Linked DNA regions of Homo sapiens. The protein of the gene in region 4 purifies or fractionates together with the protein of the main gene of each other region. This does not show direct contact. Each region holds a gene or a part of one and is shown on either strand. Other genes may lie near its edges.

What was found.
Region 1: the proteins of BTNL3 (region 4) and PLXNA2 purify together in Homo sapiens (affinity purification with mass spectrometry; one large-scale study listed by BioGRID and IntAct). This does not show direct contact.
Region 2: the proteins of BTNL3 (region 4) and NDUFB3 purify together in Homo sapiens (affinity purification with mass spectrometry; one large-scale study listed by BioGRID and IntAct). This does not show direct contact.
Region 3: the proteins of BTNL3 (region 4) and PDZD8 purify together in Homo sapiens (affinity purification with mass spectrometry; one large-scale study listed by BioGRID and IntAct). This does not show direct contact.
Region 5: the proteins of BTNL3 (region 4) and ITGA6 purify together in Homo sapiens (affinity purification with mass spectrometry; one large-scale study listed by BioGRID and IntAct). This does not show direct contact.
Region 6: the proteins of BTNL3 (region 4) and CGRRF1 purify together in Homo sapiens (affinity purification with mass spectrometry; one large-scale study listed by BioGRID and IntAct). This does not show direct contact.
Region 7: the proteins of BTNL3 (region 4) and ECEL1 purify together in Homo sapiens (affinity purification with mass spectrometry; one large-scale study listed by BioGRID and IntAct). This does not show direct contact.

The regions. Positions count from the first base shown.
Region 1 is NC_000001.11:208,041,885-208,045,384, forward strand, and holds part of PLXNA2 (plexin-A2 precursor), read right to left. Parts: intron 3,327-3,500; coding exon 3,183-3,326; intron 2,859-3,182; coding exon 2,624-2,858; intron 1,320-2,623; coding exon 1,177-1,319; intron 483-1,176; coding exon 214-482; intron 1-213. UniProt on the Homo sapiens protein: Coreceptor for SEMA3A and SEMA6A. Necessary for signaling by SEMA6A and class 3 semaphorins and subsequent remodeling of the cytoskeleton. Plays a role in axon guidance, invasive growth and cell migration.
Region 2 is NC_000002.12:201,082,001-201,086,250, reverse strand, and holds the end of NDUFB3 (NADH dehydrogenase [ubiquinone] 1 beta subcomplex subunit 3), read right to left. Parts: intron 793-4,250; coding exon 636-792; 3' UTR 501-635; downstream 1-500. UniProt on the Homo sapiens protein: Accessory subunit of the mitochondrial membrane respiratory chain NADH dehydrogenase (Complex I), that is believed not to be involved in catalysis. Complex I functions in the transfer of electrons from NADH to the respiratory chain.
Region 3 is NC_000010.11:117,284,941-117,288,440, forward strand, and holds part of PDZD8 (PDZ domain-containing protein 8), read right to left. Parts: intron 860-3,500; coding exon of another isoform or gene 831-859; exon of another isoform or gene 754-830; intron 532-753; coding exon 1-531. UniProt on the Homo sapiens protein: Molecular tethering protein that connects endoplasmic reticulum and mitochondria membranes. PDZD8-dependent endoplasmic reticulum-mitochondria membrane tethering is essential for endoplasmic reticulum-mitochondria Ca(2+) transfer.
Region 4 is NC_000005.10:180,987,489-180,991,645, forward strand, and holds the start of BTNL3 (butyrophilin-like protein 3 precursor), read left to right. Parts: upstream 1-1,357; 5' UTR 1,358-1,540; coding exon 1,541-1,589; intron 1,590-4,157.
Region 5 is NC_000002.12:172,486,586-172,490,085, reverse strand, and holds part of ITGA6 (integrin alpha-6 isoform b preproprotein), read right to left. Parts: intron 3,064-3,500; coding exon 2,948-3,063; intron 2,823-2,947; coding exon 2,633-2,822; intron 2,540-2,632; coding exon 2,456-2,539; intron 2,359-2,455; coding exon 2,279-2,358; intron 2,126-2,278; coding exon 2,048-2,125; intron 1,961-2,047; coding exon 1,858-1,960; intron 1,548-1,857; exon of another isoform or gene 1,437-1,547; intron 602-1,436; coding exon 428-601; intron 1-427. UniProt on the Homo sapiens protein: Integrin alpha-6/beta-1 (ITGA6:ITGB1) is a receptor for laminin on platelets. Integrin alpha-6/beta-1 (ITGA6:ITGB1) is present in oocytes and is involved in sperm-egg fusion.
Region 6 is NC_000014.9:54,523,406-54,526,905, reverse strand, and holds part of CGRRF1 (cell growth regulator with RING finger domain protein 1), read right to left. Parts: intron 1-3,500. UniProt on the Homo sapiens protein: Able to inhibit growth in several cell lines.
Region 7 is NC_000002.12:232,485,035-232,489,322, reverse strand, and holds the start of ECEL1 (endothelin-converting enzyme-like 1), read left to right. Parts: upstream 1-1,488; 5' UTR 1,489-1,604; intron 1,605-2,568; 5' UTR 2,569-2,669; coding exon 2,670-3,455; intron 3,456-4,055; coding exon 4,056-4,124; intron 4,125-4,231; coding exon 4,232-4,288. UniProt on the Homo sapiens protein: May contribute to the degradation of peptide hormones and be involved in the inactivation of neuronal peptides.

The DNA.
Region 1 (3,500 bases), on a different chromosome or scaffold from region 4:
TCACACCTGGGTGACTTCAGACTCTGTAGTCTCCCTGGGCTGAGGGAAAGTCAGATTCTGCCCTGCAGAGACGTGAGGACACAGGCTGCTCTGAATGGGTGCCCCTTCTGGGGAGTGGGCCTTCTCATGCTGCTTGTGGGGCCTGCTATAATGAGGTGCTCTGTCCAGGTTCAGACTCCTGCCACCCTCTCCACCCACTGCTGCGGGCCAGACCTCCGGAGTAGCAGCTTGGGGTGGTTCTTGTTCTCCAGGTTCTTATCGATGAGGTCAGAGAGCAGCTGCTTGAGGACATCAGTGGCATATTCCAGGCGGCCCTGCAGGCCGGTCATGATGAGCGAAGCCACGTTGCCCCGGTCGCGCATGGAGAAACTGCGCTGCAGCTCCAGGGTGCGGATGAAGGTCAGCAGGAACACCTTGTTGTTGATGAGCTGGGCAAAGAGCTTCAGGGCCTTCTCCACGTGCTGCTGCCCGTTTCCTTGTACCTGGGGTGGGGTGTGGTGGAGGCGACGCCCTCAGAGGACAGGCATCGGGCCTCCTACCTGAGGGTCTCACTGAGGGCCTGCTGGCGATGACACTAGCTGTAGGACCCTATGTTTGAGGCCTATAACCAACCCCACCCCATTCCACTCACCCGTGATGATGTAGGAACAGCTGGCTCTAAGGTCGACAGTCTGCTCTGACCTTGCACTGGGCCGGGGAGGCTGGGCTCCATGCGGAGCTCTCAGAGGGGAGGCTGCCTGATTTTCCCAAGGATAGAATAGGAGATGCCCCCTCAAACTTCTTCAGTTTACTAGTCTCCCCTTAATCTCCTCTGCCTGATTTATTATCTTTAGTAAAACAAACCAACAAATGAACAAACAAACCTCATAGAATCCTGTGTCTTTCTTTAAGCCATCTTAAATCCATTTTAGAATGAGGCAGGATCTTAGTTAATTAGTTCAGTCATTAATTAAAAAATGACAAACAATGAGCTTTACCCTGGAACCATCCCAAGGAGCCTGGGTGCCCCCTCAGCCGTAACCTTCCTGATAGCTCTGTTGCTGAGATGCTGTTACAAACTACTGACCCCTCTTCCCTGCTAACCTTACTCAGTACTGCTGAGTCTCATCTGGATTTCCTAGGATACCCTGGGCCTGCATCCCTGCTGGGTGGCTGGGCCCAGGAGGCAGGCATTACCTCCAGCTCCCGCAGGACGGGGTGGTCCTCGATGCCCGGGAACAGGACTCGCATAGCGTAGGTACGATAGTCCAGGTAAGGGATTCCTGAGCGGTCCAGGTCACTGGTCAACTCATTGATATCCGTCTGGAGCTCAGCAAAAGCTATGAGAATAAGCAGACGGAGAGGCTCGTGGGGAAGCCCCAGTCGGGGGAGGAGAAAGAGGGAGAAGAAGTTTGCAAAGGACGAGGGGAGGACCTTTTGTAGAGACTCTGAGGATTACGGGAGTGTGTCTCCAGAGGGCGGGGCTACTCCCAGCTGTTTTTAGGTGGTGGGGAAATGGGTGATTTTTATGTTATTTTCTCCTCTATACTTATCTATAATTTCAAATTTTCTCTTTACATATTACAAGTGTAGTTTCAACAAGGAAAAAAAAGTATCATGATTGGGCCGTTTAGTAAAGATCACGGAGATGCTGGAGGCAGGTGAGAGACCATGGCTGAGGGGGTCCAGCAAAGACCAGAACAGGCAAAGTGCTGCCCTTTTCTAATCAAGGTAATAAATCAAGATGCAAAAGCCTAGGGGAGGTCTGGTCATGAGACGCTCAGCTGAGAGCCGAGTTTGGGAAGGCAAGGGCTTCAGAAGCCTCACCTTGGTGGTGGCACACCTGTCTTCCTGGCTCCTTCCTCTGCCAAACTCACCAGCCCTGTTGCCAGGAGGAACCTTGGCTCCACATGTCCTATTTCCCAGCCCAGCTCTTCCCTGTCATCCAGCAGAGGGCTTGTTTCTGATCTTGACATTTGCAGCAAAAGGAGAAATGTTTTCATTCCTAATTGAGCTGTTTACCCAGAGAGCCTGCCAGGTCCTCAGCCTGAGAGGACGCCAGGTACACTCGTCACCTCGAGGCTGTGGTTGCGTGGGACATGGGAGAAAACACAATCTGCACTCCCACACACGTCCACAGCCAAGGACACCAGCAAGTGGCGGCCTTCAGAGCGCTCAGCCTGCAGCACTGATGGAAAACAAACCCTGGGGGAGATGAGGCAGGTGCTTGTCTGCCTTTGCTGCCGCTGCTCCCACGTGCTGCGAAGACAGTGTGCAGAAAAACAAGAGCTGGACACTCCCATGGGGGATCTAGAGTCTGGGGCTGTGGAGCCTGGGGACTCTGACTGTGGGGACATTGAGGCCCTGAGAGGGAGAAAGTGTTTGCCAGATTGTGGGATGGGTCAGGGCAAAGAAGGGACTAGAACAATGCAATTGGACCTGGGTCCTCATGCAGTGGGCATTCTTCATTGGACATCTCTGACCCTATAAGCAAAAGAAGTTCTGGGAAAACAGGGGTGAAAGTGGAATGCAGAGGCATGGCTGGCAGCGATGGGAGTAAAGATAGGAGTTGTCTGCAGGGAGAAGGGCAATAAGGCAGGTGGAGAAAGAGGGACCCAGCAAATGAGGGTGTGCTTCCACTAACCTTCCTTGCACTCCAAGGCCACACGGGACTCCAGATTGTCCATCTGCATTTGCAGCCGCTTGAGAGTGAGGTCATTTTCTCGAGACTTGCGCTTGTAGGCAATGAGGACGATGATGACGATGATGAGGAGGAGGCTGCCGCCGGCCGCGATGCTGACGATGGCTGGCAGGGTCAGCAAGCTGTCTGAGATGACACTCACCGAGCCAGGCGAGAACACCATCCCGCCCACGTGAACCTGTGCATTGTACACATACAGACGCACATGGATGCACACAGGTGTAGAGCCCGGGCATGCCAGCAGATCCTTACAGTGCGAGGAAGGACATGACAGACCACAACCACACAGTGCAGCTCTAGATAAAAAGCAATTTCCTGCCTCGGCATCTGCCTTTCTTTTCTTGTGTTCTCAGCTTATACCCAATTTGATGTAGGACCCAGAGATGAGGAGATATGGAGGGGGTGAGTCAGGCAACGAGACAGAAGAGAGCCTTTCCTTAGGACAGATCACACATGCACCACGAGGCGGGAAGGAGGCATTACAGACGCAGGGCTCACTCACCATGACCTTGTGCTGCCCGGTGAGGTTGGGAGGCTCGCAGAGAAGCTGGGTCTCAGATACGGTGACAGCACAAGGGGTCTCTCCGATGAGCACAGTGTAGTTGAGTTTGGCCCCTCCAGAGGCAGGAGGGCAGAGGTTTTTGCCCTGTAGAGAATAGCAGTCTTTATAGGCATAATTGACACATGCACGCACAAGTTAATTGCCTACTTAAAAAGAGATTAAGGAGACGGGGAAGGGCAGCAGTGCAAAAACCAGGAAATGACTCCTTGGCAAGTTTTTGTGGAGGGGACTTCTAACAGCCATGATCTAGAGAGAAAG
Region 2 (4,250 bases), on a different chromosome or scaffold from region 4:
TGGGAGGCTGAGGCGGGTGGATCACAAGGTCAGGAGATCGAGACCATCCTGACTAACACGGTGAAACCCTGTCTCTACTGAAAATACAAAAACAAAATTAGCTGGGCATGGTGGCGGGCGCCTGTAGTCCCAGCTACTTGAGAGGCTGAGGCAGAAGAATGGTGTGAACCCGGGAGGCAGAGCTTGCAGTGAGCCGAGATCACGCCACTGTACTCCAGCCTGGGTGACAGAGCGAGACTCCATCTCAAAAAAAAAACAGCAAGGCCAACTCCCATTTAAATACTTGTTAGTGCCAGCTAGGTCAGGACTAGTTAAAAAAAAAAAAAGAAAAAGATTAAAAAAAAACTTCTTAGAACATGCCCATTTGCTCAGCCAAATATATGATGCCTGCCTGCTATATGCAGAACGCACTACTGCTGTTCTCCAACCCCCTATGTATTCTAAACCAAATCTGATATGGCTTGAGACACTTTTTTTTTTTTAAGAATGACAAAAGCAGATTGGCATATATATATATTTTAATTGATTAAATCTTACTAATATTCTGTAAGGGATAAACCAGACAAGTAGGCTACAGAGAAGAAATCTTATTTTGGAGAGTTAAGAAACCACTATGATGCTTCCAGGTATTATCTTCAGTGATGCTTCTTATCTTTATTCAGGGACTCCAGGTAATATTCAGCTCCTACAGCTACCACAAATGCAGCAAATCCCCATTTGAATCCTTTAAAGAATACATCAGAAAAGGAAACACTCTTTGCAAAGCCACCCATGTATCTCCAAGCTTCATTGCTAGAAAAAAAAAAAGAAAAAATTATAATCATACACAACGTGTGTGTATATACGTTGAAGACATTTAATTTTCATCTTTCTAATTGACTTAAATGCTACCCTACAGAAGATCATTTAAGTGAATCGCAATAGGAATCTTTCTGTGGCATAGGATAATTAAGTATATGCCCAAGTTTCACATATAAAATAGAAGAATAAACACTTGATGGTTTCACATTTAATAGTCATATGCCTCAGGATTTTACAGAACCCTCAAATGCAAGACTCACGTCAGCTTATCTGTCACAGGTCAGATGGGCTCTGCCCACACTAGTCATTACAACATCACGGAAAGATGAAGTTAGAGACTTGGTATTAATCTTTGGTATGCCACTTATATTAGATTCACAATCTTGTAGGCTGGGCAAGATGCTTAGCCTGTCATGGTCTGCTTCCTGTTCTATTCAATGATGATTATTATCTACTTTATAATATCATAAAGACTAAACAGGCTCATGCATGATATATTTTGGCAGAGGAGTATGGAGTATGTAACACTTGACATTACTGTTACTATTCAAAAGGATCTCTGCTTCTCCCTACCATAGCAGCCTGAATTTTGGAAGATTGATACCCTGCTCTGGTCTGATAAGGACAAGCCAATGAAAAAATCATGTTATGAAAAACAAAAACTATTTAACTCTAGAAATATGACTTAGGAAATACGAGAGCTAATTAAATCTAATTGGGATACCAAAACCAGACAAAGATGTTAGAAGAAAAGCAGCTACAGAATACTATCCCTCATGAACATAGATGCAAATATTCTTTTTTTGGCGGGGGCGGATGGAGTCTTGCTCTGTCACTGAGGCTAGAGAGCAGTGGCACAATCTCAGCTCACTGCAACCTCCACCTTCTGGATTCAAGTGATTCTTCCACCTCAGCCTCCCAAGTAGCTGGGATTACAGGCACACACCACCATGCCCGCTAATTTTTGTTTGTTTGTTTGTTTATTTATTTATGACAGAGTCTCAATCTGTTGCCCAGGCTGGAGTGCAGTGGTGTGATCTCAGCTTACTGCAACCTCTGCCTCCCAGGTTCAAGCAATTCTCTGCCTCAGCCTCCTGAGTAGCTGGGATTATAGGTGCCCGCCACCATGTCTGACTAATTTTTGTATTTTTTTTTTTTTTGAGATGGAGTCTCGCACTGTCGCCTGGGCTGGAGTGCGATGGTACGATCTTGGCTAACTGAAACCTTCACTTCCTGGGTTCACGGGATTCTCCTGCCTCAGCCTCCCCAGTAGCTGGGATTATAGGCGCACACCACCACATCCAGCTAATTTTTTGTATTTTTAGTAGAGACGGGGTTTCACTATGTTGGCCACACTGGTCTCGAACTTCTGACCTTGTGATTCACCCACCTCGGCCTCCCAAAGTGCTGGGATTACAGGCATGAGCCACCGCGCCCGGCCAATTTTTGTAATTTTAGTAGAGACAGGGTTTTGCCATGTTGGCCAGGCTGGTCTCAAACTTCCAGCCTTAAGTGATCCGCCTGCCTTGGCTTCCCAAAGTGCTGGGATTACAGGCATTAGCCACCACACCTGGTGCAAATATTCTTAACAAAATTTTAGAAAACTGAATCCGACAGCATATAAAAATGGTAATACATCATAATGAAGTAGGGTTCACTCCAGGAATGCAAGATTTGTTTATATTTGAAAATTAATAGAAGTAACTCGCCATATTAACAGAATAAAAAGGAAAAACTATGAACATCTCAATAGATGCAGAAAAAGCATTTAACAAAATCCAATATCCATTAATGGTAATAACAGGATGGGCACGGTGGCTCAGGCCTGTAATCCCAGCACTTTGGGAGGTCGAGGCGTGTGGATCACCTGAGGTCGGGAGCTTGAGACCAGCCTGGCCAACGTTTTAGTCTCTACTAAAAAAACAAAATTAGCCGGGTGTGGTGGCACATGCCTGTAATCCCAGCTATTCGGGAGGCAGAGGCAGGAGAATCGCTTGAACCTGGTAGGCAGAGGTTGCGGTGAGCCAAGATCTCGCCATTGCACTCCAGCCTGGGCAACAAGAGCAAAACTCTGTCTCAAAAAAAAAAAAAAAAAAAAGAAATAATAAACAATGAAACACTTAGTAATCTAGAAATAGAGAGAAATTCCTCATCTTGATAAAAGGCACCTAGGAGATCACTGTAAGAAACATCATACTAAGTGGTGACCCACCAAATGTTTTCTCCCAGTTGGGAATAAGGCAAGGACGTCCACCACTTTCATTCAACATTATAGTAGTGGTGTTAGCCAGTACAAAAATGCAAGAAAAAGAAATAAAAAGTTTACAGATTGAAAAGGAAGAAGTAACAATGTATTTGTAGACAGAATGATTGTTTATGAAGAACATTCTAAGAAATCTGTAAAAAAAATCTACTTGAACTAAAAAGTGAATTTAGCGGCCGGGCGCGGTGGCTCACGCCTGTAATCCCAGCACTTTGGGAGGCCGAGGCGGGTGGATCATGAGGTCAGGAGATCGAGACCATCCTGGCTAACAAGGTGAAACCCCGTCTCTACTAAAAATACAAAAAATTAGCCGGGCGCGGTGGCGGGCGCCTGTAGTCCCAGCTACTCGGGAGGCTGAGGCAGGAGAATGGCGTGAACCCGGGAAGCGGAGCTTGCAGTGAGCCGAGATTGCGCCACTGCAGTCCGCAGTCCGGCCTGGGCGACAGAGTGAGACTCCGTCTCAAAAAAAAAAAAAAAAAAAAAAAAAGTGAATTTAGCAAGGTAACAAGATATAAACTCAACATATAAAAGTCAACTGTGTTTACAAGTATTAGCAATGAACAACTGGAAGTTGAGATTTTAAAATACTATTTACAATAGCATCAAAAATTAAAATAATTCAAGCTGGGTGCTGTAGCTCAGATCTGTAATTCCAGCACTCTGAGAGGCTGAGGTGGTCAAATCACATGAGCTCAGGATTTTGAGACCAGCCTGGGCAACACAGGAAAACCTCGTCTCAACAAAAAATACAAAAATTAGCTGGGCATGGCGGCATGCACCTGTAGTCCCAGCTACTCGGGAGGCTGAGGTGGGAGGATGATTTCAGCCCACGAGGTAGAGGCTGCAATGAGCCAAAACGGCATCATTGCACTCCATCCTGGGCGACGGAGACTCCATCTCCCAAAACAAACAAACAAACAAACAAACAAACAACGCCAGGCCTGATGGCTCAAACCTGTAATCCTAGCACTTTGGGGGGCTGAGGCGAGCGGATCACTTGAGGTCATGAGTTCAAGACCAGCCTGGCCAACATGGTGAAACCCCATCTCTACCAAAAAAATACAAAAATTAGGCCTGGCGCGGTGGCTCATGCCTGTAATCCCAGCGCTTTGGGAAGCTGAGGTGGGTGGATCATGAGGTCAGGATATCGAGACCATTCTGGCTAACACAGTGAAACCCCATCTCT
Region 3 (3,500 bases), on a different chromosome or scaffold from region 4:
TCGCTTGTGGTCGTGGTGGCACAGGTGGTTTGAAAGCAGATCCTTGGGTTGGTTTTGACACTTGTGCTGGGTCTGTTATCTCAGAAGTTTTTAGGGGTGGAGGTTTATTTCCATCTTTGGACTGAATTTTCGGTGGTAGTGGGTGACTTCCTACAGCTAATTTACGGTTTAAAACTGGTGATATAGCTCCAAGGGGTTTAATAGAAAGTGTTGTTGGAACACGTTTGGGACTATGACTTAATGATTGTGCCTCATCTTTGAACTCATTTTGTGCTCTGACATCACTTGCCAAGTCTTCAAATTCAGAATCCAGCTCTCTACTTTCAGTATCTACTGTCAACCCGGCAGCTTCCTCTTCATAACCCGATTGGCATGAGCTTGACAAAAAGTTTTCTTCCAACTGGCCAAAGTTATCTTGCAGCACTGCACCTTGATTACTCTGGCCAACAGGCCTTTCATAGTACACCAGGACTCGGTCACCAGCCTGCTTGATAAGCTTCAACACTTGCAGTGTTGATGTGATTTTCACACCTGGTTTAAGATTTTAAAAGGGAAAACATGTAAATTATTGCAATAGAAATTACTACATTTGTTAAATGTATTTAATTAAATATATATAATTGCCATTACCTCTGGTTATTTAACTAATAGAAGAATAATAGGAAAATCTCAACAATATTTTATTTGGCTTTTGGATGAATCAGTGTGCTAATTCTCAAACCCTGAATGTGCTGATATCCTGGAGATGTTTACCTTTTCAAACCAGATGATGACACAGGATCCCAAAAAGAGTGCCAGGATGCTAACTCCTAATTGCTTTCTATCTCTTCTTAGGTTAGATGACATCTCTCAGTTTGAACTGAAGAAGTGAACAGAGAGAGATCTATTTAAAGGATTCTATTAATGGCTAAATCAGACTTAGAGTGAGGGAAAGCTGTGATTCCACTGAAGGAAATTCTAAAATACTCCAGGGATTACAAGACATATGATGAAAGATTCAAATTAAGAGAGCAGTGCTTGAAAATAATGTAGCAAAATACTATACTATGAATAACGTACTTTTACAGATTCTTTTTATCAACCGTACCCATCACATTCATCTTTTTCAAAACCAGAAAGAACAAGTAAGGGATAAACTGCTTTAAAGTTAAACAAGCTGGTTACTATCTGCATCTGTAATATCTACGTTGTTTTTATTTTTCTTATTTTTTAATTGTTACACGTAGTTTAAAATTTGAAAGGTATAAAGGTATAAAAAGATGTACAGTAAAAAATATTCTTTCCACCTCTGTCTCCCAGCCATACTGTCCCTTCCCTGACCTTAGTAGCTTCTAGTGTATGCTTCTATAGATATTCTAGGTGTGTTAGCACTTAAAGGTGCTACTTGTTTCCTGTCACTCTTCCCACACTCTCTAAAACAGCACTTGCCCAAGCTATCCCTTTATGTAGAACTTAGAGAAAGAATGAGAAGGCTCTTTGTTTTCCAAAGATCTTAGGGCCATCCTAAATAAATCTAAGTAACACCACCCCTTTCTCATAACTTGACTTCAGGTTTCCTCAACCTGTGTCCTCTCTTACTTCAGCTGTCTGGGAAGATCAGGCTTTAGACTCGGTCATCACTTGGAACTTGTCCACATCAAAGATCTTTCATTTTCAATTAGTCTCTGATCACAAGCTCCTATTTTTCACCTCTTACAATCCTGTCTGCTCACTACTTTTAGGCAACTTCCCGGCCCAATCATTCCTCTTTTCTTCTCATGGTCCTGTTGGTCTCCTGATACCACTTGCTCTTCTATCCAACCCTGTGTCTCAAGATTACAACGATGTTCTTACCAATATTTTATTTTCTCGTCCTCATGTTTTTTGATCCCCAGCTTTACTAGCCCCACTATTGCCCTTTCCTGCTCTTGAGCTTGCCGCTTGGATCTAGCATCAAGTTAGCCATCCATCTTTGGCAAGGTGTTCAGGGCTGCTTAGCATTCTTTTGATCAGTCTGTAAACAACTAAGTCTCTCAAACATCAGCTGTAAATCTTTCCTGTTTCCCTAAAGTCTACTCTCCCTACTCTCTTTTACTCTGTGCATGCTATCACCTTATTTGCCAAAAAGATCAATATGAAGCTACCTTTTCTCCCTACCATCATTTTTAGTATTATCTTACTTCAGAGGAGAAAATATCCCTCTATCTGTATACTTACTTTGGATCCAATCCTCCTGTCTCCTTCCTGACTTTGCTCTATCAATTATCCTTAAACTTTTTCTTCCTTTTCTTTAAAATTTTTCTTTTTCTTAGTTTCCACAACACTTTACACAATTGGTTCTGATCACCTCTCCTCTAGCTTCTTTTTCTCCACCTATACCACCTGCACCTTATATGCAACTGTTACCAAAGTTTGCCACTAGTTCTCTCACCCTTTTTTGCTCTCTCCCTGGTAAATTACAGCCACTCCAGTAGTCTCAAAAACTATCAACTTTTTCTTTGGTTTCCCTTCTTCTTCACTTTAGTTCTACATTCCCAACTACTGGACATCACCACCTGGATGTTCCTTTGGGACTAAATATTCAGCAGAGCTAAAACCTTTCTTTGACTGTCTCTCTGTCCTCACTACTATCAATCAACTTGCCACTCCCAGTTAACTCAATTTGAATCCTAGGGATATTTGACTCCCTAGAAACATTCAGCTGTCAACTCAAACTTGTGATTTCAGCCCATTTTCCTTCCCTGTTCAGATCCTCCTGATAACTGGCCTTCACTTTAGTAATAAACAGCTTTTAACTGCAATCTCTCACTCAGACCTTCCCTACTTTAAACACCAAACATATTGCTACGAAATTTTCCTAAAGCATTTGCCCCTTTAGCCTACAAACTTATCACATGGAAATTCAGAGCTTTCTAATATGGTGCTTCATTATTTATCTAGCTTTAAGTTCTACTACGTCCTTCTAACCATACTATGTCTCAGCAAAATTATAGTTTGACATATGCATAAATGAAAAATTAGTCCATCTAATGATCTACAGTAGGCAAAAACTTCAACTCAATCTGAACTCATTTTTTATGACTAAAAATCTGCCCTCGTCTCATCTATTCCTCAGTCATCAGGTGTTTTGTGGAGATGGCCATTGCAACTCTCTCTCAGGAATACACCATTCAAGTCTGGATTTTTCTTTTGGAATATTTCAAACACACTCAAAAGCTGAGGAAACAGTAAAATGAATTCCATTTTGAGCTTCAAATATAATATTTTGCCAATCTTATTTCAACTATCATCAATTATATACCCATATAAATGAATCAAAGCGATATAAAAATGTTTTGAAAAATATCTGTTGACATGGGGAAAGTTTACAACATGCTAAAAGAAATAAAGACTATTACAAAAATGCATAGTTTAGAAATTTTTGTTTCCTAAACAAAAATTGGGAAAGGCATATATTTATGTACAGAAAAAAACAAACAAACAAAAAAACAAAAAAAGAGACATACAAAAGCTTTTCTGTT
Region 4 (4,157 bases):
TTGTAATCTTTGATTTTTTTGCATTTGTAATGGCTTTGTACTTAAGGTAGGATTACATGTTTACAGATTGTGGGGGAAAAAAAAAGAAAAGTGAAGGGAGAGAAAAGACAAGGCGAGTGGCCAGAGACCCTCAGGATCCAAGAGTTAACTCTGATTAACTCAGATGCTTTGTTCAGCCAATTTCAGACTTCTTTTTTCCTAATACAAGCACTTAAGGATAAGCCTTTCTGTAAGAACTGCCTTACATGCATCATAGTATTTTAAATGTAGTGTTTTCATTCTTCTTCTAGTCTAATTACCTTCAACTTCTATTATTAGTTCTCTTAGACCCATTAGTTATTTAAAATTGTGTTATTAACAATTTCTAAGTTCATGGGGTTTCCTCTTTTTAAATTGCTCTTTACCTTCGTTGTCCTTCGTGGTGCTCTCCGTGGAAACCTGCTTTCTGATCTAGTAAGTGCTTATTCTTTGTGCATGTCCCTAGACTTGAAATCACTGCATAATCCCTAACTGTGTGTGTCCTGGCTTAGTGCATCTAATGAATGACTGAATGAATGCATCTTTGCCTTTGCCTTACCCCCGGGCCTGAAACATCGTCTTGGTCCCCTTCTCAATACCTTGGATCCTTGGAGATCAAGGTCCTGGTTGTTCTGGCAAGTTCAACACAATCTGGCCTCATGATCAGAGTCCTGTCCCTGAACTCAAGACAAGGGAGGGATGGGCAGAATTACCTCATGCTGTGCCAGGAAATATGAGTCTCATGGGGCATGGCCTGTGTGCCTGGGCAAATTCACTGCCTCACTACCCTGTGCTGAGATGATCTCTTTTTTTTTTTTTTTTTTTTTTTTTTTCTGAGATAGAGCCTCACTCTGTCACCAGACTGGAGTGTAGTAGTGCAATCTGGGCTCACTGCAACCTCCCTCTTCCCGGTTCAAGCAATTCTCCTGCCTCAGCCGCCCAAGTAGGTGGGACTACAGGTGCGCACCACCATGCCTGGCTGATTTTTGTATTTTCAGTAGAGACGGGGTTTCATCATGTTGGCCAGGATGATCTCGATCTCTTGACCTCGTGATTCACCTGCCTTGGCTTCCCAAAGTGCTGGGATTACAGGCATGAGCCACTGCGCCCGTCCAATCTCTCTTTCAGGGACAGATGTTCACTCTCTCTTGCAGCTCTGCCTGCCAGACTAAGCCTGAAAATATCTCTGCATCTGGCATTCCTTTACCACCTATGTGGGGCACAACCCAGAACAAAGTCCCTCCAAGTGTACCCTACTCTCTTTCCATTATCATTTCTCTGGTCTGAGATAGATGTTTATGACCTGCCAATAAATGCAGTGACTCAAACTCCAGTGCCCATACTCCTCATTCATACAGCCATGTTTAGGGAGGCTCTAGGGAGAAATGCACAGTTTGACATCGTTCATGAAGAGCCTCTCCACGGCTCCTGCGCCTGAGACAGCTGGCCTGACCTCCAAATCATCCATCCACCCCTGCTGTCATCTGTTTTCATAGTGTGAGATCAACCCACAGGAATATCCATGGCTTTTGTGCTCATTTTGGTTCTCAGTTTCTACGAGCTGGTGTCAGGTAAGCCTTTCAGTTTGGACTGTTGTTTTTCTCCTTGTTGAATAATATTTTGAGTTCATTCATGACAATGATCTCAGCACAGTGAGATGCAGGAATCTTTGGTGCTTGCATTCTCCAGCTTCTCCTGGCCTCAGGCTGGAAACTACCAATGCCAGGAGCTGTGGGAAGCACAGGGCAGCAGGAATTGAGGAAGACTCCTTGGGCTGTTTCTCAAGGACTTGGGCACTATCACAGTAGCTCAGAATAATGGGAGCAGGCCCTGGGAGCAGGGAGGGAACACATTGAGAACGCCAAGGTAAACACATTGTTCTCCCCAGGTGGGCTGTGGGGCTTAGGCAGGGGAAGTCTCTAATAAAATCCCCAGGTTTTTGACTTGGGTGCCTGGGTGGAAGGTGGCACTGTTTAGGATGTTTGGAGAAAAAGACAATGTGTCCAGTTATGCACATGCTGAGTTAGAAACACCTGTAGTTATGGGGTAGAGCACCAGACCTTTAAGTGAGGAGTAAGTTGGAACCTGGCATAGTCTAGGCAGAAACCCACTCTTCTTTCTCCTTCTAGTAACCATCAAGACAAAGCCTGGTGTATAGGATATTCAGTAATCAAATAAATTTTGCAGGGAGAGATAGGGGCTGGAGTAGAACACTGGATTCTGGGTGGTCAGTGTTAAGCCACAAAAAGTTCATTTGACTGTGTTCACTTTCTGTCTGGAACAGTTCCATCCTGCTATTTGTCTACCTATGACTGTTTTGCTAAACAAAGCCAACAAAACAGAAATAAGGGGATCAAAATCCATGTGTGCTCAGAGGGCGTGGTGGCTCACACCTGTAATCCCAGCACTTTGGGAGGCTGAGGTGGGTGGATCACCTGAGGTCAGGAGTTTGAGACTAGCCTGGCCAACATGGTGAAACCCCATCTCTACTAAAAACACAAAAATTAGCCGGGCATGGTGGTGAGCGCCTGTAGTCCCAGCTACTCGGGAGGCTGAGGCACGAGAATCACTTAAACCCAGGAGGCGGAGGTTGCAGTGTGCCAAGATCGTGCCACTGCACTCCAACCTGGGTGACAGAGTGAGACTTTGTCTCAAAAAAACAAAAACAAAAAATCACAATCCACGTATGTTACTCACAAGACAGCCTCCGTTTAAGTACATTCTCACCCATTTTCTGACAAGCCTTTCTGTCTGCTTTCTGTTTCTGCATGAGGCAGCAGGGCATGCTGGAAATGACCTTAGAGGAAGTAACACTATTTTTAAAACTTTCCTTTTCTCTATGAGCTTGTGGCTAATAACTTCTATTAGCATCAATTTTTGCTTATGATGACATAGAGATAATAAGATCACATCTGTGACATTCCTGTGGCTGAAGGGCTGCTGTGTGGATTGCGTGAACTCGTGCATGTAGAGCGTCCAGCACGGAGCTCCGCTGGGGCACAGTATGTTGCGACAACAGACAGTGTCATTCCTTGCTTCTCCCCAGGGGAAGGAGTAAAGGGAGACGCTGTCGGCAAGACAAATGACAGCAGCAAGGCTGGCCGGAGAAACAGACATATACTAAAAACTGTTTGCCTGGCTTGAGAGTCTCACACAGCCTTGAAGGCAGCACTCACAGCAGCCCAGCTGACAGGCTGGGTCCCAAAAGCTGATCTAGAGCAAGGGCCTTTCTGCAGGTGGTTTGTTTAGCAGACTGTTCTCAGAAACAAAAGTGACAGGGTGCAGAGAGTGAAGCCAGCGGGAGGTAAGCCATAGAGGGTGCGCTAATGAGCAGGTTGCTGCGGTGGCAACTGGGACCCAGTCCCACTGGGTCCTTTGGAGGAACTGTATAGACGATGGCTCAGGATCTTCCCAACATCCACTGCTTCCTGTTCCCCACTGGGTGAGATGTGCCCCTCCGGGACTATTAAAATCGCAAACCTTCTTGGCCACCCTGTGCCTGGGCTGAGGAGGTTCCAAAGGTTGCAAGAAGCCATCAGCAGAGAGGCAGAGGCCAGGCTCCAGGGGCGGAGCTGTCAGCAGGCAGGCAAGTGCCCATCCCATTCCAGGGGGACTCAGGGTTGGGTGGTGAGGAGCAGGGCCTCAACATCTGCTACACCAGGTCAGCAGCTGGTCTGACACCAGGCTGCAAAGTCACGCCTCACTTAATAATGCTCTTAAAGATGCATGAGTGAAATACATTTCAGCAAGATTTATAAAATGTACTTAAACTTAGAAATAATTAGTGCTAAAATTAAAAATATCCACTTATCTGGAAATTCACACATGGGATCCACTTTGCCTCTGATGCACATGCAGATACCACACACAGATATATCCATATACCATAAATGGATACATGTGAATGAATCAAGAGACACTGCCAATCAAAGGGGGTGGGTACTTAGAAGGTGAAGGGAGTGGGCCTCCATCGTTTGTGGTCTCTCTAAGAAGAACTCTAATCATACAGAGTTGTAAGTGTGATTTGCACCAGAAAAATTACTTAGTTGACCACAAAACCAAGAAGCAAATGCAAAAAGAAAGTAGCGCTCACCATTCCTAGGCATAATCCCTGTCTGTGGAGCCCATTCTCCATGCTG
Region 5 (3,500 bases), on a different chromosome or scaffold from region 4:
TTAAAAATAAGCATAAAAAGCTTTCAAGGTTACTTGCTGAGATGCCATTATCTTTTCCAATGAGTTTGGTTCTACTTGGAGTGAACACTGGCTGGCCCCTGGATAACAGCAGCTACTATTACCCCAGGAGCATCCCCCAGTTCTCCTTATTATGTAACATACTGGGTCATGATGAAACATCAGAAAATACCATTTGCCTCAGCAAGCACTGAATGACTCTGCCTTATGTACTATAATGGTCATTAACCAGCAAAAATGCCTCAGCCTCCCTCAGTTACCCAACTAGAAAAGAGAAATTGTGACAACCAAAGAGAAAGTCAACCTGCCAGAATATGCCACTTTCCTAAGAACAGTAATGATTTTCCCCTAACAAGTTAGTTTCTCTAATTTGCATTTATGGAGACATTAGATAAATCTACCGACATACCGTTAGGTTCAGGGAGTTTATCTCCTTTTGTGGCTCACAAGTTACCTTTTCCAATCCTTTGGATTCTACTTTCACCAAATAAAGCAACCATTTCCCATTGCTAATTTCTTTTGGCCACTGAATGTTCAAGGTTGCTGTGCCGAGGTTTGTAAGAGGTTTACCTAAGTTTATTACCTGTTAGAAAATAATACATATTATCTCAGTCTAATCTTCTCAATGTAAATTTAAGTAGCAGCTCCTTTTACCAAGAGAAAGAAGCTAAAATATCTAACGTAATCCTATAATAAAAGCACAGGCTCCAAAAATGGACTATAGATAGGGCATTCAAAATAAAGACTTGTGCCTAAAGATTTTTGTAAATAAAAACAAAAAGGTCAAAGGACAACTGATAGCTAACTCGTTCTAGGAACAACTGCTGTATGCAACAGAATCAGCAGTGTAGATATACCATGTTCTCAACATACGCCCAGGGAAAATCATGTGTGAATTTGTGAACTGCCCTGTAACCACCCTGCTTGGCCAATGACAAGTCCTGGGCCAAGGCAGTGTACCAACAACCTGCTTCTGGAAAACCCCATCCACTGCAAAAATGAAGCTGCCTCTGTCCCAGAGGAGATTCTGCAAAACCATTATTAGGACAGCCATGAATCTGAGAGTCCAAGCTGGGAACAGAGTGACGTCCTGCGGCAGAAGCCAAACACAGGAGGTAAGAGCCCTCTTGGTGTCGAGACTGTTCCAGAACCCAAAGACTTCTTTTCCAGCTGCACCTGCATAGAGATCATAACCACCACCACCACCTGCCCCAGCTGTGTCTATAATGCTAAGAGACACACAGAGGAGAATTCAGCCTCTTCATTCTGCCGGAGTCAGGTGGGCCCATGCTTGCCATTTGAGGCTTTCACCACAGTGGTCACTATGCCTTCAGGAATGTGATTTCAGCCACACAGACCTAAACCCATGTGTGAGTTACGAACAGACTCTGTACCCTATGTTTATGTTTATTCAACAGGACAGAGAGTCACTGTGATTGCCTACTTTGAAATGGTTCAGAGCCAGTCACTGCCTTTCCTACAGGCATATACCAAATCTACATTCACCACAAAAACTGGGCTTGTGAAAGGTAGGCATACATTAATATTCTTTCAACCACAAGCAGTGAGAAAGATGACCTTATAAAGGAGGAAGGAATAAATCATAACGCATTCTAAACTGAACTGGATTCTGAACAGTGACAATTGTTCTCCATCCTGGAGGATAAAATTTTTACTATAAGCCAGTATGTTCTTTAAAAGCTGGCAAACTAATTTTTAACTCATGATTTACTTACAATGCTTATTAATATTGCTGATTTATTAAAATGACATACTCAAGACCATACCTAGTATATGTCAGCTTTTGGTATAATGAAAAGACCAACTGCTCCAACTTACCCTGAATTCATACTCTATTAAACTTCCCACTTCATCTTCAGATTTCATAGCTTGCTCGCCAACAACTGTACCTCCAAAATACACCTGGGAAGGTTTAGCAACTCTGTCAAATTAAAAAACACCAGTTTTAATGAGGATTGTAAATGGTTCTTTCAAACATTGATTTGTTATGCTAAACACAAACACTTACCCCGAGACCGATAAAAGCAGTTCAATAACCACTTTTGCTTTAGCTGTAATTGGAGCCAAATTATCTTGATTGCTTGTTCTGAAAATGAAAAGGAAACAATAGGGTTGTATTTTACCAGTCAGTTTTCTCACTACAATTAGACTTCTTTTATGAGGTAGATCAGGGCCAATTCATTGACTGCCCATATTTTCATGAAATAATTCTGAATGGAGAGGTTGATGTAACTCTTACGTTTCTAACTTCAGATTAATATCCAGATCTGGGGTGTCAAAGGTGACTTCAGTTGTACTTAAAACCAAATAAAAAGTGACCTAAAAAAACATAAATAGCTGTTAACACAGGCCATGCATACAGACACTGCAATGGTATTTAAAACAGTAAAATACAGTATATGAAGGCATCACCTACATTTGAATTTCTTTTAAAAGGATTTCCGAGCTCACAGTCAGCTTGCGAGCCATTCTGGTTGGCAACACAACTCAACTGTTTCTCCTGTAAAAGAAACACACGCTAGGTCACAATCCACTCATTTGCCACACAGTGTTGATTTTTTTCCCCTCTCAGCTGGTCTCTAACAATACTTACAGGGAAAGCCCTCAGTTCTCTATATGCAGAATAGGTTAAAGTGTCTGGAAACGTTGCAATCAGTTTAGCCTCATGGGCGTCATCGCCATCTTTTGTGGGATTCCTTGGGTTGGAAGGGCTGTTTGTCACTGTTATTTCTAAAGCAATATCCTTCTGATCTTTTAGAACTAGTTCTGGTACACCTTTTTGACTATTAAAAATAAGAAAACAAGAACAAAAAGGCAAAGTCCTCAATACGTTTCCAGTAAACTTTCTTAACACAAAGCCACCATGAAGCCAGAATCATTTTTGCTAGTGCTACACAACGATTCTTACATTGGTAAATAAGAAAATTTGTCTTGATTTCCTTCTCGGGTGCAAAATTTATATTCTAGTTTAAGGTTGCTGTTACATACATTGTCGTCTCCACATCCCTCTTTTAAGAAGTGAACCTGTAGGAAAACGAAAACTATTGTCAATTTACACCATTCAGGACTCAGGAAGGCATCGATGTAGGTGACTGGCTATTCCACACAGTTCATTTCCCTGTGTGACAATTACCAATGCAGAATTCAAGCTTTAAATGTACTTTGCCACACATCAAATTTCCATTCTGTCCTTTAGTAAAATTGTGTTTGAAGAACACTTTGACCAGGGCATGGAGGCAGTGTGGTATAGAAGAGTGTGACCCAGCAGCCACACAGATTTGGGTTTGAAACGCAGCTCTACCCCTTACTTAGCTAGCAAGTCACTTAACCTTTCAGAGTCCAAGTTTCATCATAGGTAACGTGGAGATACCACCATTCTAACTTTATAGGGCTACTATAAGAAGTATCAATAATAATGATGATACCAACGATTATAATACTCGATTTACATATCTTAACTC
Region 6 (3,500 bases), on a different chromosome or scaffold from region 4:
AGGATCCCTGTGAGAGAAGCAGTAATAAAACAAGGAGACCATTCATGAGGATAATAAAGCCAGAGTATTGGGAGATGAAAGTTTTAGGTTGTAGAGAATGGAGGTTCACAAACGCCTCCAAACATGCCATGTACATTGTGTTTTTTTCTAACCCTTTTGCTTTAATGTTAGCTCTTACCAGAGTGAATAAGCTAAAATATAAGGAAGCTATTTACAAAAAGCAGAATTCCTGAATCAAATTAATTCAACTCAACTTATATACACTGAGTATCTAACTTTCAATTTCATTAAAGACTCTATATTGGAGACATGGAAACGCAAATCCAAATATATCATTACATAATAACAACAACAAAAAAATCCCAGCAACCCACCCCTAGTAAACAGAACTAAATGACTCAGATTAAAATCGATTCTCTGGTTTTCTTTTTTTTTTAATTATAAATTTTAAAATATGGCCAGGGCGCAGTGGCTCACACTTGTAATCCCAGCACTTTGGGAGGCCGAGGTGGGCAGATCATGAGGTCAAGAGATTGAGACCATCCTGGATAACACGGTGAAACCCTGTCTCTACTAAAAATACAAAAAATTAGCTGGGCATGGTGGCATGCACCTGTAGTCCCTGCTACTCAGGAGGCTAAGGGAGGAGAATTGCTTGAACCTGGGAGGCAGACGTTGCAGTGAGCCAAGATTGCACCACTGCACTCTAGCCTGGGCGACAGAGCGAGACTCCGTCTCAAAAAAAAAAAAAAAAAAAAAAATCTTAAATATAAATAAAAAGCATGTGTGTTTTTTTGTTTTTGTTTTTTGAGACAGGGTCTCACTCTGTTGCCCAGGCTGGAGTGCAGTGGCATGATCTCAGCTCACTGCAGCCTCAACCTCCCAGACTTAAGCAATCCTCCAGCCTAAGCCTCCTGAGTAGCCGGCACTAACAGGCATGTGCCACCACGCCCAGCTAATTTTTGTATTTTTAGTAGAGATGAGGTTTCGCCATGTTGGCCAGGCTGGTCTTGAACTCCTGGACTCAAGGATCCGCCCGTCTCAGCCTCCCAGAGTACTGGGATTACAAGCATGAGCCACCACGTGCAGCCTCTGGTTTATTTTCAAGTTAAATCAGGTCTCTAGATTATTCACCCTCTTCTGCTATATGTCAGGCAGTTTGGGTACAGTGGTGAAAAAAAGATTTTTAAACTATCTACACATCAAATGAAATAACTTTTTTAAATGTCACAAATATTGTTACAATATTATTTTAATGTTCTGTATAGACATCTTTAATGATACCCACTTTTCCACAGTTTAAACAAATGAATTTTACTCTGTTGAGTATAACTCCTATCAAAATCCTTCTATTTCCCCATAGGAGAAAGATAATAAATGATATGCATCGGTATTTTAAAAATTAAAATATTTCAGTATTCATGCTGTACATCCACACATTTAAATAATTTTTCATGACTTCAGTAATACTACTGTTGGTTAGCAACTAGTGTGCAGGCATAGCTAAGAGGGCTACTTACTGGCTATCTTTTCATTTGCCTCAAACATTCGCAAGGCTGGTTCTATTTGTGACTATTTCTGCCTGAAAAGCAGATTGATGGATTTCCTCACACTTTCTGCCTCACAAGTGCCCTGTGTTTTGCTCACAATGTATCAGCTCTTCTTAGTTTTTCAGTGTATTTTCAGACCTGTGGAACTGTACTGCAGGAAGGAAGGCCTTGCAGCTGGTAGGTTTTTCATTGCGGGTCCTGCTCAAGAGCCAGATGTGACATTGTAGCAGGTTCTAGCCTATGGCCACAGAGGTGGGAGGTTATTGAACCACCACTATGCTGTACACTTGATTTTTTATTTTATTTTTTGAGACAGAGTCTCACTCTGTCACCCAGGCTGAAGTGAAGTGGTGTGATCACGGCTTACTGCAACCTCGACCTCCTGGACTCAAGCAATCCTCCCACCTCATCCTCCCGAGTAGCTGGTAGCTGGGTGTACACTTTAATCAGGCATGCACAACCTACTATCTTTTAAACAAATTAGTTTTATCTGTGTCATATCTCAAAATTTGGTTTTCTCAAGTAAAAAATATCAGAATGAACTGTTATCTATTATAGGGAAGGAGCGGGGAGGGGAGTGGCCGAGATCCTAGTTTCCATCAATTCATAGGGTAATAGTATTTACAGCTAAAGAGGATGAATAAGAAATTTTGTACTTTTTGGGGCCAAGAACAGTGGGTCACGCCTGTAATCCCAGCACTTTGTGAGCCTGGGGCAGAAGGACTGCTTGAGGCCAGAAGTTTGAGACCAGCCTGGGCAACACAGCAAGACCCCATCTCCACAAAAAACATTTTTTTTTTTATTTAGCCAGGCACGGTCATGCACACCTGTAGTCCCAGCTACTCAGGGGGCTGAGGCAGGAGGACCACTTGAGCCCAGGGTATTGGGGCTGCAGTGAGGTATGATCATACTACTGCATTCCAGCCTGGGTGGAAGAGCAAGAGCCTGTCTCGAAAAAAAAAAAAAAAAACATATATTTTTCCTTACAAATCAAGATTTACTTAAGCCTGATGATCTATTTGACTAAGTAAACTGATTTCTGACCAGTTATTAGATTCTGAGAGTTAGAGGCAGGAAAGATGAATAGACAAGAATGGTCCATAGACGCAAGGGAGCAGGACGTTGCAAATGAAGGTCAACTCTGTAAAATACTAGAGAGAGAGCATTAACTCAGCCCTGAAAGGCTCCCACTGGATTTGATGACTGCTGGGGGTCAAAAGTGCAGGGCAGAAGTCGTAATTAGTGACCTCAGAGAAAGCCATTTCAGTAAAGGGATACAGGGAAAAGTCAGACTGCACTGCACTGAGGAGTAAAAATGAAGCAGGCTAAGAGAAGGAAAATGCAAACAGCTTCTAAGAAGCTGGCTGTGAGGGGAAGAAGAGAAATACGGCAGTAGCTAGACTAGGATGAAAAGCAGAGAAAGATCTGGCTTATTTGTTTTCAAGAAACCAGAAATGTAAGCAAGTATAGAAGGGACAGGGTCTCGGCCCAGAAAAAAAGCTACAGAACTGTATCTAGGACTGCCTACTCTTTATTTCTATTGAACTGTCACGAAAGAATTTCAAAGTCCAAAAGTTCAAAATTGAATTCATTGCCTTTCTTTGGAAACTTGCTATTCTTTCTGTACTCCTCATTTTTCTAACAGGATCTGGCTATGGAGGACCCATAGGAAGAACCTGAGTCTTCTTAGACTCCTCTGTTACCTGTCCCATCCTATGCTTTAGCCATAACTACTGTTTCTTTAATGTATCACTCCATTTCTCATCCACGAAGTAAACACCTATCTTCCAAGATTCTACTCAAAAAAAAAAAAGGAGGAAGGAATAAAGAAAAAAAAAGTAAGAGAGACTCAGCATATTCTTTTTTATGAAGGCTTTCCTGAATATGCCTCTTCACCTTAACAAATTTAAGCATCTCTTTCTTTACAATTCTAATGGTTCCTATATGGTC
Region 7 (4,288 bases), on a different chromosome or scaffold from region 4:
TATCCTCCTGGAGACGGGAACATTGAGGGAAAAATGCAGATTAAAAGCACAAAGAGCCACTTTGCCACCTCCCTGCCCTCCCCTCCCCCCTTCATGGAATCGCCACATTATAAGTAATTCCATTTTTCCTCTTTAGAATTAATAGGACCCAAGAAGGATGCATGGGGCAGAGGACAACCCTGGGGTGGCCAGAGATGGAGGCAGGGTATCCGGAGTGGGGGCTTAGAGATGGAGAGATGAAGAGGCAGGGAGAGGCAAGACAGGGGCAGAGGCCGGCACTCAGGGCCAGGGCTCAGGAGCTGGGCAGATGCACAGACCCTGAGGAGGAGAACAGGATGATGGGTAGGTTATCAGAGTCCCTACCTTGTTGTGATTTTTATTAGATGGTGCTCCATGGCTCTCACACATTGTTTAAGCCAATCCTACGGGCTGGAGCCGGCAGACCTGGGAGGGCTGGTGCTTTGTGGGGTCTCCTGCTAGAGACACCAGAGGCAGGGTAGGGCAGAGAAAGCAGAGACTCCAGAAACAGTATCAGTCTTCCAAGGAGCCCCAAGTTCTCTGTGTCCCATTAGGGCCAGGCTGTCTGGCCAAGGCAGGCAGGCAGGTAGAAGAGGGCTTTGCCTCCAGGCAGTGGGGAGGCCCCACATTTAAAAAGCCAGTTTACCTGGAAGAAGGCAGGCGGTGAGTAAATTCAGAGTCCCTGCACCCAGCCTGCCCTCCCATCAGTCCACATACCAGGGTCTTGAGGCTCAGGGCCTGTCTGAGGCCTAGGGCTGCTGGCCAGAGGGGGCAGGCTCCAGCCTTCCCTGGCTCCAGCAGGGAGACTTCGCTCATTCTTCTCTTGGCCTTTTCTTCCTACCTGGGCCAGGGACTCCCTGAGCCGTGGTGCCAGGGCCACCCAAGGCTGGGGAGGATGGGGAAGGGGGCGGCAAGCCCTCTTCTTGCAGGAGTCCCCGCTGAGCTCCCTTCACCAGGGGCTAGGTGAAGGGAGCGAGGCCAACCAGAAGCCCTAGTGGAGAGCCCATCCAGGGCAGGGGTTCCAAGGAGGACAAAAAAGCCGGTTAGTGAAGGTGCGCTCTGCGCCAGGGACTGTGCCGGCAGACACAGGCACTACTGACACCGCCCCCAGCCCTTCGGAGGAGTCCTCGGCTCCTCATCTCCAGCTCCAGCCCCTTTCCAGCCGGCTGGTGGGCGGCTGGGAGTGGGGACACTGGATCGGAGGGGACCCTTCACGGGAGTACTCGCTGCCCTCACTCGTCTCGGAACGCGGCTGGACCCGGAGTCCCCGACCGCAGCCCGCGCACGACCCCCGGGAGCCTGTCTCCGCGGCCGCCGACCCACGTCCGCGCTGCCGCCCCACTGCCAGGTGGCCCGAGAGATGCAGGAGGAAGGAGGGGCGCGCGGGGCGGGCGGAGGAGGGTGGAGCCGCCGGCGCGCCCCCTCCCTCGGGCCGGCAGGCGGGCGGCGCGGCGGGCTCGGCGCGGCGGCAGAGGAGGCGGCGGGCGCTGGGAGACACCGGACGCCCGCTCGGCTGCGCTGCGGCTCAGGCCCCCGCTCGGGCCCGACCCGCTCGGTCACCGCCGGCTCGGGCGCGCACCTGCCGGGTAAGTGGCGCCCGAGTCCCTGCCGCTGAGGCCACCACCGCGGCCACTTCCGTCGCCGCCGCCGCCACTGCGCGGAGCCTCCCGGCTTTGTCTGCGTCCTCTCGGCTGCGGCTCCGGCTGCGGCTGCGGCTGCGGCTCCCGGGCTCGGCTCTCGGGCTCCGCGGACTGCGCCGCACGGCGCCGGGGCTCGGGGGTCGCCAGCCAGCTCGCTCCCCGCCGGGGGTGAAACTTCGCCCAAGTTTGGGTTCTGGGGAGAACCTGTTGAAGCCAGGAGTGGCTCGGGGCGGGGACAGAGATGGTGGGAGTGGGGGGAGGGAACCCGTCTCGGGTTCTCCATCAGGGCCGTCCAGTGGGTGGGTTGTGTGTCCGCCACCCTGGGGCGTTGGCGCGCGCCCCTAGGGAAGGGGCGAGTGGGCCGTCGGGCCACCGAGCAGAAGGAGCCAGGGAGCGGGGTTGGCGTGGTCGATCCCGCGGACTTCCGCGAGGACAAAGTTTGGTTCTTTGGCCGCTTTGCGGAGCGTCTGTCTGGGTCCAGCGCGGAGAGCTGAAAGTGTCGCATAGACGCGCCCCTGACCGCACCTCCTCACTCCAGCCTCCGCTTCTTCCCCCACTCCACCCGGCCTTGGCTGGGGCAGGTCGTGGAAGAGAAAGGCGAAGGGGAAGAGGGACGACCTTTCAATGAAGGCCCACTACGTGCCAGGCCCCTTGCCTGGCGCCTCTTGCTTCCAATAAGAGCCCTCCCAACCCTGCGGCCCTCAAGTGTGTGCAGGGAGGGGACAGGGGGGAAGACTCCACTGTGCACCCGGGGGTGGTGGCCCCGCCGAACCCTCATAGTCCCTGGTTTCCGCAGTGAATGAGGCCCGCGGCTGGGGCCTCTGCACCCAGGCCTGTGTCCCTCCTCGCGGTGACCCTGAGCCCCATCCGGCTGCGGCGCCTCCTGAGCCTGCTTCCGCCCTTCCCGCAGCTGCGGCCCCAGGGCCATGCGGAGGCCCACGAGGAGGCCGGCGGCCACGCGCATCCCGTAGCCCAGGTGGCCCAGGTCTGCACCGCGGCGGCCTCGGCGCCATGGAGCCCCCGTATTCGCTGACGGCGCACTACGATGAGTTCCAAGAGGTCAAGTACGTGAGCCGCTGCGGCGCGGGGGGCGCGCGCGGGGCCTCCCTGCCCCCGGGCTTCCCGTTGGGCGCTGCGCGCAGCGCCACCGGGGCCCGGTCCGGGCTGCCGCGCTGGAACCGGCGCGAGGTGTGCCTGCTGTCGGGGCTGGTGTTCGCCGCCGGCCTCTGCGCCATTCTGGCGGCTATGCTGGCCCTCAAGTACCTGGGCCCGGTCGCGGCCGGCGGCGGCGCCTGTCCCGAGGGCTGCCCTGAGCGCAAGGCCTTCGCGCGCGCCGCTCGCTTCCTGGCCGCCAACCTGGACGCCAGCATCGACCCATGCCAGGACTTCTACTCGTTCGCCTGCGGCGGTTGGCTGCGGCGCCACGCCATCCCCGACGACAAGCTCACCTATGGCACCATCGCGGCCATCGGCGAGCAAAACGAGGAGCGCCTACGGCGCCTGCTGGCGCGGCCCGGGGGTGGGCCTGGCGGCGCGGCCCAGCGCAAGGTGCGCGCCTTCTTCCGCTCGTGCCTCGACATGCGCGAGATCGAGCGACTGGGCCCGCGACCCATGCTAGAGGTCATCGAGGACTGCGGGGGCTGGGACCTGGGCGGCGCGGAGGAGCGTCCGGGGGTCGCGGCGCGATGGGACCTCAACCGGCTGCTGTACAAGGCGCAGGGCGTGTACAGCGCCGCCGCGCTCTTCTCGCTCACGGTCAGCCTGGACGACAGGAACTCCTCGCGCTACGTCATCCGCGTGAGTGCGCCCCCTGAGCGCCCTGCCAGCGGCCGCGGATCCGGGGCGCAGTGGCCTTGCCCAGGGGTCCCTGCGCGCGGGAGGCGGGTGCGTGAGAGGAGAGGAGGGAAGAGACGAGCAGGAGAGGGGAGGGGAGGGGAGCGCACAGAGGCAGAGCGCGGGAGGAGGGCGCAAGTAATTTCCCTGGGGTAATTGCGGTGTTTAGAGGAGCCGCGGGAGCCGCAATTTCCCAGCCCTCTGGCAGGCAGTGAGGGCCAGGAGGGAGAGGCGCGCCGGCGGGCTGGGTTGACGTCTCCGCGAGGTCTGGAGCTGGCCCCAAAGCTAGGGGTCCCAACTGTCAGTGGGGGACCTACGAATGCCCCGGACAGATAAGGAAAGTGCAGACGTACAGGGGTAAGATTGGGCATCCGCAGGCTGGGACAGTCAGGGATGGGGCTTTGGCCATCTCGTCTGGGTGGAAAGAGGAGCTGGGGTCTGCGTGCTTCTGTGGCTGTACTCATGGATGTCTGGTTGCTCTCTGGGCATTGGAGTGGGAATTCCCTCTGTTTAGGGAACCTGAGGTGTGGGCCTCTGACCTGTGGCCCCTGTCTCCCTCCCCAGATTGACCAGGATGGGCTCACCCTGCCAGAGAGGACCCTGTACCTCGCTCAGGATGAGGACAGTGAGAAGGTGCTGGGGCATGGGATGGGGAGGCAGGGAAGGCCTGGGGCCCCAGGAGGGGTGGATCCAGGCTAGGCCTGTCCCTGTCCCTGGGTGAGCCCCCTCCCCTGGTGCAGATCCTGGCAGCATACAGGGTGTTCATGGAGCGAGTGCTCAGCCTCCTGGGTGCAGAC